Regions from separate parts of the Homo sapiens genome. Here region 2 is linked to region 1. Evidence: fine-mapped expression QTL. A gene starts in region 1. The other region holds a variant in brackets. All regions are shown on one strand. Distances are between the middles of the regions. Region 1 holds the start of TNFSF9 (TNF superfamily member 9). Region 2 has its middle 22 kb from the start of TNFSF9.

What was found.
Region 2: its variant is fine-mapped to the expression of TNFSF9 in whole blood (INTERVAL, PIP above 0.99).

What each region holds. Positions count from the first base shown.
Region 1 is chr19:6,529,654-6,532,490 of GRCh38, forward strand. It overlaps TNFSF9 (TNF superfamily member 9), which reads left to right and starts at 1,373. Exons shown (of 3, transcript NM_003811.4): 1 at 1,373-1,650. The coding sequence starts at 1,384. RefSeq lists silencers at 1,201-1,430, 1,571-1,640 and enhancers at 2,051-2,150, 2,752-2,837.
Region 2 is chr19:6,551,172-6,554,076 of GRCh38, forward strand. It overlaps the pseudogene TGFBR1P1. Among named protein-coding and RNA genes, the nearest start is that of TNFSF9, 22 kb to the left of the region's middle. RefSeq lists an enhancer at 726-795. The variant C/T (reference allele first, on the strand shown) is at 1,204.

The sequences.
Region 1 (2,837 bases):
TGACACAGATAAAAGAGCCAGAGACAGGGAGAGGCAGAGACAAAGAGAGATACAGAGACAGAGATAACAGAGCCAGAGACAGAGAGACAGAGACAGAGATAACAGAGCCAGAGACAGGGAGAGAGTGTCAGAGACAGAGACAGACACAGAGATAACAGAGCCAGAGATAGGGAGAGTCAGAGACAGAGAGAAAGAGACACAAGACAGACATAGATAAAAGAGCCAGAGACAGGGAGAGGCAGAGACAAAGAGAGATACAGAGACAGAGATAGCAGAGCCAGAGACAGGGAGAGAGTGTCAGAGACAGAGAGACAGACACAGAGATAACAGAGCCAGAGATAGGGAGAGTCAGAGACAGAGAGAAAGAGACAGACAGACATAGATAAAAGAGCCAGAGACAGGGAGAGAGACACAGAGACAGAGACATAGAGACAGAGATAACAGAGCCAGAGACAGAGTCAGAGACAGAGACAGAGAGAGCCAGACACAGAGACAGAGAGAGAGAGTCACAGCCAGAGACAGCGACAGAGATAACAGAAGCAGAGAGAGGGAGAAAGATAACAGAGCCAGAGACAGTCAGAGACAGAGATAGAGAGACAGAGATAACAGAGCCAGAGACAGATACAGAGACAGAGATAACGGAGCCAGAGATAGGGAGAGAGAGTCAGAGACAGAGAGAGATATATAGACAGAGATAACAGAGCCAGACATGGGGAGAGAGAGTCAGAGGCAGAGAGAGAGAAGACAGATAGAGAGACAGAGCCAGTGATAACAGAGCCAGAGACAGGGAGAGAGAGTCAGAGAGAGATACAATGAGAGACAGAGATAACAGCCAGAGACAGAGTTAGACAGAGAGATACAGAGACAGAGATAACAGAGCCAGAGACAGGGAGAGAGAATTAGAGACAGAGATAGAGAGAGACAGAGACAGAGATAATACAGGCACAGAGGCACGCATAGACATAAATTGGCAGAGAGAGAGAAAGATCTCTTTCCACCCACTGCAGAGGCAATCAACAGAGACAGAGAAAGACGTTAACGGGGAGACACAGAGAGCAAAGGAGACTGAGTCAGCAAGAGACCCACAGAGATACCGGGAAAGAGCGGCAGAGAGGGAGAACCAGGGCGATGGAGAGACAGCAGGGAGAAAGGAACCTGGAGCCGAGCTTGGAAGGCCGGAAACGGAAAGGAGAGCGAAAAGCGGAGAGAGATCCGAGTGGAGAAAATTCCGCAGAGTCACGGGGACGAGGGGAAAGGCTCTGGGCTGGGAAGGGGCGTGGCCGCGGGCGGAGGGGCGTGGCCGCGGGCGGAGGGGCGTGGCCTCCTTTTGTAGCCAAGCAGCTATAAAAAGCGGCGCGCTGTGTCTTCCCGCAGTCTCTCGTCATGGAATACGCCTCTGACGCTTCACTGGACCCCGAAGCCCCGTGGCCTCCCGCGCCCCGCGCTCGCGCCTGCCGCGTACTGCCTTGGGCCCTGGTCGCGGGGCTGCTGCTGCTGCTGCTGCTCGCTGCCGCCTGCGCCGTCTTCCTCGCCTGCCCCTGGGCCGTGTCCGGGGCTCGCGCCTCGCCCGGCTCCGCGGCCAGCCCGAGACTCCGCGAGGGTCCCGAGCTTTCGCCCGACGATCCCGCCGGCCTCTTGGACCTGCGGCAGGTGAGACGTGCCCCGACCCTCGGTAGCTGGTCTCGCGGGAGACCCCTACCGCCCCTCTGGGACTCCCTTCTCCCTCCCGCACCCCCAGGGACACCTGTTCTACACTCCCGGCCGGGGAGAGGAGACCCACCGGGGCTCCCATTCTCCATCTAGCACCGAGGCCGGGGGGGCACACCTTTCATCCCGCACCCCTACGACACCTCATCTGTACCCCAGGCCGGGGGCGGGGAGGAGACCGCCCAACAGTTCTTTTTGGACCCCCCAAGGGTCTCCTTCTTCTAGTCCGGGGGGCACCCCTTTCATCCTGCGCCCGCTACGAGACCCTATCTGTATCCCGGGAGGGGGAGAGGAGACCCCCACAAGTTCTTTTTGGACCTCCAAGGGCTCTCCTTCTCCGTCTTGCACGGGAGGGCACCCCTTTCATTCCGCATCCCGAGACCCCATCAGCACCCCAGGCCAGGAGGAGGAGACCCCCACAGTCCTCAACCCCTCAGGGATACGTCTTCTGCACCCCGGGTCGGAGAAAGGCTGGCTTCCCTCCATGTGGCAGTGGGTGGGGGCACCCCTCTTCATTCCGCATTCCCAAGGCACCCCATCTGCACCCTGGACGGGGGACCCTCCGCGGTTCTCCAACCCTCGACGGCTTCCTTTCTCTATGTAGGACTTAGGACATTGAGGGCACCTCTTTTTACCCCGCACCCCCACAAGCTCTGCATCTCTGGGGGGAACCTTTTTTCCATCCCCGATCCGAGGGGGGCACTTCCTCTTTATCTGGGACCGCCAAGGAGACCCCCAGTTCCTTTGCTAACTCCCAAAGAGCCTTATCCCCAACATCTGAGGTACCCCTCTCCCTTTCAAGACCCCCAGGGGAATACCCCCAAGGGGGCTGGAAAGAAGAGGGATCGCTTTTCCCTCCTGAATTCTTGGAGATCTGTCCTTGGGGCAGGTTGAGCCACCAGCTTCGTGTGTGTGTGTGTGTGTGTGTGTGTGTGTGTTCGTGTTTGTGTGGGTGTTTGTGTTCGTGTGTGTGTGTTCGTGTGGGGGTGCGTATGTGTGTGTGTTCGTGGGTGTGTTTGTGTTCGTGTGGGTGTGTGTTCGTGTGGGTGTTTGTGTTTGTTCGTTCGTGTGGGTGTTTGTGTTCATGTGGGTGTGTTTGGATATTTGTGTTCGTGTGTGTCTGTGTGTGT
Region 2 (2,905 bases), 22 kb after region 1:
GGCTTCTCTCTGCCCAGCAGGTCATCCCATCCTCACTGCAGCTTTCAGCAGAGAGTGTAGCTCCTTTCTGCAGCTGGTCGTCAGGTCATCTCCAGCTATTAGCACAGAGAGTGGCTTCTCTCTGCAGCTGGTCATCTGGACGTCTCTCTTTTTCTCTGCCCTGCTCTGGCTGAGCCTGGGGCTTTTATGGACCTCAGAGGGGATGCAGTGTGTGCCGACTGGTCCATTAACAGCCATGCATGGGCCTGGAAAAGGCATCACAAGTCCCCACTCTGGTCCACAGGTCTGGTGGCCCTCAGCCTTCAGGCCCTCCCTGGCCTGAAGGTGGGGTCTTAGCGAGGACTTGCTCCCTTCTGCCAGGAATCAGTCTGCCTCCTGCTGCCGTTCATGGCCCCAGGTTGGACCCTGACTTTGCTCCAAGATCAGAGCAGGCGCTGAGAGCAGGGAGAAACCAGGCAGTGGGAGCAGGTGCTTTGGAGCCTGCAAGGGCAGGGGGGCCTCCCTGGCCCCCCAAGAGCACAGGGAGGCTTGAATCTGCGGCCACAACTTGGGCGGCTGCAGAGGCCCAGGATGCAGCTTCAGGTGCTCCCCCTTGCAAGCTGGGGCGGGGATTCCTGATCCTTGCCGGGCCTGGGCTGGCGCCCAGGGCAGGGGCAATATCACCACGAACTGCCCCTGTTGCCCCGGCACTCAGGGGCAGCCTGTGGGGAGCTGATCCTGGCCCCAGCCTGGCCACGGGGAGTGGCAGGCTTGGTGGTCGCTCTGATGCGGGGTGGACCCCAAGAACACGGCTGGCAAGCCCTGCACAGAGCCTCCTCCTGATGCCTAGGAACCCTGAACCCTCTGCGGGGTGGGTGCAGTGGCTGCGCGGCTGGCTAGTCCCCAAAGAGGGCGCTGCTCCCTCTTCCTGCCCCCGCCCCCAAAGCACGGCCCCAGCTCCACATCCGGGCCCCTCTCTGCCCGACCGCGCTGCTCCAGCAGGGCGTGGGCTCCAGAGGGCTGTGGGCTGCGTGGCCGGGGAGCTGTCAGCCTCCTCCCTGGGCCCTCCCTGCAGCAGCCATGTGATGGCAGCAGCCAGACAGCCCACCACAGCCATCAATACCACACGAATTTTCACAATAAGCTGGACAAACTTTCCCTGGTGGAAAAATTAGTCTGTGGCCGGGTGTGGCTGGCCCTGGCTCTCCCAGGAGGTTTTCATGA[C/T]GTAACCTGCCAATTTGATAAATCTCTGCCTCATAGAGTCACAAACGTTCTTCTCTAGATGAGAAGTTCTCCATGATTCCATAAATATAAATTTTAAAAAATTTAACCTGGGGCCGGGCGCGGTGGCTCATGCCTGTAATCCCAGCACTTTGGGAGGCGGAGGTGGGTGGATCACCTGAGGTCAGGAGTTCAAGACCAGCCTGGCCAACATGGTGAAACCCTTGTCTCTACTAAGAATACAAAAATTAGCTGGGCGTGGTGGTGTGTGCCTGTAATTCCAGCTACCCAGGAGGCTGAGGCAGGAGAATCGCTGGAACCTGGGATGCGGAGGTTGCAGTGAGCCAAGATCACGCCACTGCACTCCAGCCTGGGTGACAGAGCAAGACCCCGTCTCAAAAAACAAAACAAAACAAAACAAAAAAAACAAAAACTAACTTTAAGTTCAGGGGTACATGTGCAGGTTTGTTATATGGGTAAACCTGTGTCATGCGGGTTTGTTTTACAGGTTATTTCACCCAGGTGCTAAGCCTAGTATCCATTAGCTATTTTTCCTGATCCTCTTCCTCCCCCAACCCTCCACCGTCTGATAGGCCCCAGTGTGTGTTGTTCTCCTCTATGTGTCCATGTGTTCTTATCATTTAGCTCCCACTTATAAGTGAGAACATGCAGTATTTGTTTTTCTGATCCTGCGTTAGTTTTCTAGGGATAATGGCCTCTAGCTCCATCCATGTTCCTGCAAATGACATGATCTCGTTCTTTTTTATGGTGCATAGTATTCCGTGGTGTATATGTACCATATTTTCTTTATCCATTCTACCATTGATGGCCATTTAGGTTGGTTCCACGTCTTTGCTATTGAGAATATGCTGCAATGAATATATGCATGCACGTGTCTTTATAATAGAATGATTTATATTCCTTTGGGTTTACACCTAGCAGTGGGATTGCTGGACTGAATGGTAGTTCTGTGTTTAGGTCTTTGAGGAATCCTCACACTGTTTTCCACAATAGTGGAGCTAATTTACATTCCCACCAACAGTGTAAAAGCGTTCCTTTTCTTAGAAGACAATACCTTTTTTTGTTGTTGTTGTTGTTGAGACGGAGTCTCCCTCTGTTGCCCAGGCTGGAGTGCAGTGGTGTCATCCCAGCTCACTGTAACCTCCATCTCCCGGGTTCAAGCAATTCTCCTGTCTCAGCCTCCCAAGCAGCTGGGATTACAGGCTTGCATCACCACGCCCAGCTAATTTTTGTATTTTTAGTAGAGATGGGGTTTCACCCTGTTGGCCACGCTGGTCTCGAACTCCTGACCTCAAGTGATCCACCCACCTCAGCCTCCCAAAGTGTCAGGATTACAGGCGTGAGCCACCGTGCCCAGGCAAGAAGGGAATATCTTAATGACAACTTCTCCCCGCCGCTTTCCTCGCCAAAATTCTTCACATTCACCTTTGCCAGTGTTCCTGTAACAACAATAGTTTTCACAATTGTTCTCTGAACAAGCAATGGTAGACCTGATCCAGAGCCTGATATTGTCATATCATAAATTAAATCTTTTAATGTAGTTCCCTCTGAAATAAAAGGATAATCTTTTTTTTTTTTTTTTTGAGACGGAGTCTTGCTCTGTCGTCCAGGCTGGAGTGCGGTGGCGCGATCTCGGCTCACTGCAGGCTCCGCCCCCCCAGGGTTCACACCATTCTCCTGCCTC